Homo sapiens: one gene and its partner. The protein of the gene in region 2 interacts with the protein of the main gene of each other region in a pairwise test. Each region holds a gene or a part of one and is shown on either strand. Other genes may lie near its edges.

Evidence for each region.
Region 1: the proteins of CCNQ (region 2) and PTPN5 interact in a two-hybrid assay, tested with the Homo sapiens proteins (one large-scale study listed by BioGRID and IntAct).

What each region holds. Positions count from the first base shown.
Region 1 is NC_000011.10:18,727,115-18,730,113, forward strand, and holds the end of PTPN5 (tyrosine-protein phosphatase non-receptor type 5), read right to left. Parts: intron 2,705-2,999; coding exon 2,544-2,704; intron 2,453-2,543; coding exon 2,339-2,452; intron 1,914-2,338; coding exon 1,820-1,913; coding exon of another isoform or gene 1,197-1,819; 3' UTR 814-1,196; downstream 1-813. UniProt on the Homo sapiens protein: May regulate the activity of several effector molecules involved in synaptic plasticity and neuronal cell survival, including MAPKs, Src family kinases and NMDA receptors.
Region 2 is NC_000023.11:153,588,966-153,592,778, forward strand, and holds part of CCNQ (cyclin-Q), read right to left. Parts: intron 3,769-3,813; coding exon 3,541-3,768; intron 1-3,540. UniProt on the Homo sapiens protein: Activating cyclin for the cyclin-associated kinase CDK10.

The DNA of each region.
Region 1 (2,999 bases), on a different chromosome or scaffold from region 2:
TCTCGAACTCCTGACCTCATGATCTGCCACCCCTCGGCCTCCCAATGTGCTGGGATTACAGGCGTGAGCCACCGTGTCCAGCCCACCCTGTTGTTTTCTCATCATCTGTAGCACACCCCGCATGCCTGGACCCTGGATCCCACCCAAGGTTCTGGCACCTTGTAAGGACTTGTTGGTCAGCACCCTTGCCCTGGACCCCTCCTTCTGCCCTGGGGTGACCCCCACCTGCCAGCAGTGGCATCATGGCTACTTTTGCTCCATCCCAGGGGGGCAGGGGACAAGAATAGAGCAGGAGTGTCCAGGATGGCTCAGGATCTCAGCCCACATGCAGATTCCCTGGGCCCCTTGGGAGGAGCTACTCTGAGCCCAGGCCTTACAAGGGAAATTACTGGGCTGCAGCTGCTGTTGGGATCTGTGGAGCTAACATGGGATAAGAGTTTGGCCAACAGGGAGGGGCCTGGGTGTGACCTGAATGTCTCCTTACCCTAGCCTTGGCTTCTCTGGCACATCTGTTGGAAATGGTGACCTGCCAGCCACTGTGCCTTCCCTGGAAGCCTTCCACACCTGTCCTTGAGGCTCCCCATGGCCCAGAGCATGTGTCAGGGCCAGGGCTGAGGCTGTGTGAGAATCCTGCAGAATGTTCCCAGTTTGGCTTTACAAATTTGGACTCGCTCCATACTCCCAGTCTCCACAAGGGGCTCCAGTGAGCAGAAGGGCCAAGCTCACTGTGCTCATGCTGGGGAGGGGCACAAAGACCCAAGTACAGGAAGGAAGGCAGTGGAGGGGAGAGGCAAATCACACAGACCCAGGAGGTTAGTTTTGCTCAAAATGCTCCGTTTATTGCTCTATTCAATGACCACGAGCGAATTATAAAAAGACACCAAATGTCTCTGTCTGCCGTGGGATAAATATTTAAAGTCAGCAATAAAAACACGTGGCTCCAAGATAATACATGTTGCCAAAGAGTCATGCATGCCCTCCTGATGGGCTCTCAACACACGCATGGACATGGGAACACACGCAGAGCAACACGCAGTGAGACTTCTGGGAAGGCTTTCCCACAGTGACACAGAAAAATGTCTCACGTAGATCTGGGCTGAGTCCCCACCCAAACCTTGAGCTCCCCTCCCCTCCCCAACAGGGCCTAGATCCTCTGGGTTCTCCATGCCCCATCTGCCCCCTACCTTGCCAGTGCCTCACAGGCTGGGCACCCTCCTGAGAGCATCTGACACCCAGAGGCCACCCTGGCTGTGATGCCCACTCCAACCTAGAGAACTCTCCCTCAGCTGAAAGCTCTCTGGTGACCTTCTGGAGCTCCCCATGCCTAACTCCCCGTCATCTGCCTTTTGGGAGAAGTGCGGGTGAGGCCGAGGCAGGCAAGTCCGGTTGCTTAGGGGCTGGAGCTCATTACCCCTTCCTGGCTGAGGAGACACAGTGTCCGGTACAGAGGGCAGAGATGGATGGACAGACAGAACACATTGCAGCAGGACACAAAGTGTAGCACGGAAACATTCTGGATCAGGTATTGATGGAACCATCGTTAAAAACTGGAGCCCGGGGTCTGCGTGGTGTGGGTCAGGCCCCGGGGCCCCAGGCCTGGCCTGGCATGTCCCTTCCCGACCCTGCCCCCCACTCCCCAATATGTACAGTAGGAAGAGCAATGCTGGAGGGTAGGGGTCAGGCCAGGCTGACAGAGGACAGAGGGAGCTGACTGAAGGGGAGGAAGCGGGGAGCAGGCCCAGGACCCGAGGCAGGGCCCTGGGTGAGGGCCGAGACTCAGGCTGGGCAGTGCCCAGAGAACCTTGTAGGAGAAGCGCAGTCATTCTGGGGACTGGTGGGACAGCTGCTTTTCGTAGAGGCTCATGACGTGGTGCACAAACTGGTACTGCTCGCATGTCTGGATCATGCCGCCCCTGCCCGGCAGAGATGCACAGTGGGGGCAGGGTCGTGGAGGGATGGGCTGTGGGAGGTGCCCCAAAAGCCATGGAGTAGCAATCACTTGCCAGGCCTTGCCCCTGTGCGTCTTGGAGAGACCAACCCTTGCCAACCATTACCCTCTGCCCCTTCCTATCAGGGACACAGATGACATGTCCTACCACTTTCGGCCTCTGTCCTTTTATCCACCAGCTCTGCTTTTCTTCCCTCTTCATCTGGCCCCCCACTGTCTGGATCCTGCCCCTCTACCCAGCTGTCCTCGCTACTCCTTGTCTGCCCATCAGTCCGTGCCAGTGTTTTCCATCTGCCCCTCACCCCCCGCCCATGCACATGTGGGTCTCTCCCTCTACCCGCTCGGGGCTCTAGCTCCCTTGTGTGTCCCCACTCCCGCCCGTGGGCTGACCTGTCCTGACGGAGCTGGCACGTGGTCTTCAGGATGTCCACCACACCCTCCTGCCGCAGCTGCTGGCAGCAGATGCTGGTGGCAATGAAGCAGCCGGTCCTCCCAATCCCTGCACTGAGGGCCGAGGGGACCGGTGGGGTGAGGGGCAGGGCAGCCCAGCGGGTGGGGGGCTGCCCCGCTCCAGTGGCTGGCTGGGAGGACCCACCTGCAGTGGACGATGATGGGGGCACAGTGGGGCCCCTCCTGCTGGGCTGCCTCCTCCACCTCCCGCACCAGGTGCAGGAGTGGGGGGGCCCGGTCTGGGGTCTTCTGGTCGGGCCAGGATGTGAACCAGTAATGCTTCAGGCCTCGCTCCTCAGTCCCACTCTGTCGAGGAGACAGAGGCCCACCCCAGGTATGTGTGAACTCTTTCAGCTCACAAACCAGCCCAGAGATAGAGATGAGATGGAAGGAGGAAGAACACAGGAAGAACACTGAGAGTGGGACCCCTTCACCCTTCCATCTAGGCCACATTGCCCAGTGGCACCAGACACAGACCCAAAGCCAGCTTGGTTTTGGGGGTTGGTCAGCAGCGTTGGCATGGATCTTGCCTTTGGTCCTGCCCCAACAACTTCAGGATCATCCAAGAGGGGCCAAGAGCCCCTTCTCCAATTTATTACTA
Region 2 (3,813 bases):
GGCCCATGGCAGGAGGGTTGCAGCCCAGGGCCACGCCACAGGCTGGGGTCCACACCCTGTACCTTCCAAAGGCAGGTCTGGCCTCTGCCTGGCTCCTGGAGGATAACCTCTAGGCCCCTAGAAAATCCTGCCCCGTGTGAGCGTCTTGGTTTACTGGACTGCCAGGCGGTCTGTGCTAACCACATCATTTATGGTGAGGGCCTTGGGCCACAGAGTCCCAGCCAGATCTCTGGTGGCTGCAGCCCAAGTGACCAGGGTTGGCCACGCAGGCGCTCCATGCCCATGCAGCCCACCACCTCCCACGGAAACCCTGGCCGCCATGGCTGGGATGAGCTTCCCGGTTGTGACTCCGTGCTCGCTGTCCCACACTGTTGCCGAAAGAAACAGGTGCCGTCTGCACAACTCCCCTGGGCGAGGAGCCGCTGAAGCTCACGCCTGGTCTCTCCTGGAGCCCGCCCTGTGCGCCCTGAGCCTTCGCTCACGGTAACCTGTGTCCTTTCCTTGTAATAAACCGGAACTGGGAGTGTGACAGCTTTTCTGAGTTCCGAGCCCTCCCGGCACAGCACTGAGCCCCAGGGTGCTCTTCGGGATCCCCAATGATAAGGGAAATAGTAAGTAAAGCAGCAAGACCTTGGTCAGATGCTGCGTCTGTAGCCACCCTGTGCCAGAGCTTGCTGCCTGGGGAACCAATGTACCAATCAGATCAAGGCCTTGGGCCAAGTCAAGGCAAGAACTGGACCTACGTCCACCCCTGCTGAATGCTCCCAAAGAACCCTAGGTTCCTCTGTGGCCTACAACCTCAGGTAGGAGATGGTGACCTGGACGCCCTCCAAGTCCTGACTCAGGAAGCATAGCTGTCTTACCCTGGGCTCTGGGTGAAAAACAAATACTTCAGAAATGCACACTTGCTTGCTGGGGTCCATGACCTGTGTGCTCCTGGAGACCCCAAGCTCAGAAGCAATCATTAAAAAACATTCAGGGGCTGGGCATAGTGGCTCACGCTTGTAATCCCAGCACTTTGGGAGGCCGAGGCGGGTGGATCACTGGAGGTCACGAGTTCAAGATCAGCCTGGCCAACATGGTGAAACCCCGTCTCTACTAAAAATACAAAAATTAGCCAGGTGTGGTGGCAGGCACTTGTAATCCCAGTTACTTAGGAGACTGAGGCAGGACAATCACTTGAACCAAGGAGGTGGAGGCTGTAGTAAGCTGAGATTGCGCCACTGTACTCCAGCCTGGGCAATAGAGTGAGACTCTGTCTCTATTAAAAAAAAAAAAAAAAAAAAAAAAAAGCAAGGCCAAAACGTGGAAGCAGCCTGCATCCATCGATGGATGAATATGTTAATATCATATGGTCCATGCAGGCCATGAAATATGATTCAGCCATCAAAAGAAAGGACATTCTGAGACGGGGGCTCCAACATTGTGCTCAGCAAAAGAAGCCAGTCACAGAAAGGCCCGCACTGTAGGATTCCACTCCTGTGAGGGGCCTCAAAGGAGAGCCGTGAACTCTGTAGAGGACAGTGGAAGGTTGGGTGCCAGGAGCTTGGGGGTGGGGAGTTGGGGTTGAACGGGGCCAGAGCTTCAGTTTGGGAAGATGAACAATTTCTGCGGCTGGATGGTGGTGATGGCTGCACAGCACCGTGAATGTGCTTCCGTCCCTGGGCCGCACACTTAAAAATGGTGAACGTGGTACAATTTAGGTGATGTCTATGTCACCACAATTAAATGTAACAGTCCAGAACAGGTGGCAACCCTGGGGCACCTGACAGCAGAAGAGACACAGACCCAAGTCCTAGGAGGAGACACTGCTGGCCTCTGGGGACTCTGCCTTTTTGAGGGCAGTCCATCTGCTTATAAGACAAAAAGCAGCAGTGGCTGGAAAGAGGCAGGTTCTCCTTCTGCTCAGGAACAAGGGGATGGAGGGCACTCGGTGTGGCTCTGGACGTGGAAGTTTCAGCAGCATTGCGTGACGACCTGCATCATTTCTGACCCCGCTACTGTCCCTGCTCATCTGGCAAGTCAGAGTGCAGGCAGGCTTCTCCAGGGAAGCACATCAAGCTGCCATGCTGAGCCCGTGGCAGATAAGTGACAGGAGTCACCGTAAGAAGTGGCAGCCGAGAGCACACAAGGAAGAAAGGGTTTCAAAAGCCAGGCCGTGAGCTCTGCAGCACCCGGGTGGGTGAGGCCTCCCAGGATCTCACTCATCATGGGGGATCAGGCCCTCGCACCCCGCCAGCCCACAGGAGGCACCTGGATTCCGGAAGCTTCTGGTGCACAGCCCCGAGCTGGGAGGCAAAGGTCAGGTCAAGTTTAGCAGAGCCTTTAAGAAGAGCTGGCTGAACAGAAGTTCCACACCCCACAAAGGGTAACTTCTTCCCAGTCTGAACGATGACTGGGTGAGTCTGGGCCGCCAGCAAACAACTTGCTGGTAGAGCTGCTTCCTGGCTGTGCAGGGTTACCTGGGCTCGCACTCCTCTGGGAGGGGCTGAGCATGGGACGCAGGTGGTACTGCCACACCAGGTGAGGTTTACGAGCAAGCGCAGAAGACAGAGCAGAAAGGAAGACAGATGCAGCATAGCCAGGCAGCCCAGGGCCAGGGCCACACCCACCAGATGTCCCCAGAGGGTGTTTGCCCCCCCCAGAGTCCAACCCTGAGCACGAGGCAGCCACATTATGTGAAAGTCCCTGAGCAGCCCGAGCGTGGGGCAACACTGTCTACACAGATGGCCCTGCACCACCTGCACACTGCCTTGGGGACAGGGTGCTTCCGGCTTGAGACTGGGAACATGGGTGCATGGGTTCAAAGACACATGAGCACCCGCTTTGGTGCCAGGGAGGCGCGGGAGACTGGGGAAGAGATGCCCAGCCTCAGGCACTCACAGCTGACTGGGGATACGAGATTACACAATAAACACGCAAAAATCAGCAAATGCTGTGGTCTTCCACAAGGCACACGGGCCAGGGAAGAGAGGCAGGGCTACCTCTATGCAGAACAGCACCAGCCACCTGGAAAGCTGTCCTATGCACAGGCCTACAGAGTTCCACCATCTACCCTCCATGATCTACCTATTAATACCTATCAATCACCCGCCACCCTGCCCATCAGCTCTCTCCCCTATCCATCCAGGTGTCTGTCAACTAGCCAGCTAGCTGTCACCTACCTAGCCATCCAGCCCTCTCCATAAAGCACCCCAGATGTTTCTGATGGGAAGCCAGGTTTAGTAACCTGTGATCACAGTCAAGTTCCCACTCAATTCAGTAAAAGCGGTTCTCCGCTGGGGCAACCCTCCTCCCGGGACACCGGCGACGTCGGTGGAGGCCAGCACTCCTGTTCGACATCCGGGACCCCTAAATGGCAACTGTGCCGAGGGGGAGAGCCTGTCCCAGGCCATCGCAACAGGGTACTTTCGAGCTTCCATGTTCCCCAGCAGCCCGTATCTTTCTTCATGGATAATTAATAGAATTTGGTGAGCACTGCAATACAGAGACTTCCAGAGGGAAAGGGGGCACGTCCAGTGTGCCAAGCAGCCACCTCACCTGCCACCACGGCTTCTCAGCCTCGACCTCGGCGGGCACCTCAACTCCGTAGACCTGCAGGGCCAGGTAGAGCACCGCCACGGCGATGTGCTGGGCCTGGAAGCGGAGGCACAGCGCCCCATGGTAGCTGTCCCGCAGCAGGGCCCAGGCGGTGACGGCAACAGGGGTCCGCTGCCAGCTGTGGCGGTTCAGCCAGTTCTGGAGGGAAACCAGGTAGTGGAGCAGGTACTGCAAAGACACGTGTGTCAGCCTTTAGGCCCACCAGCTGCTCTC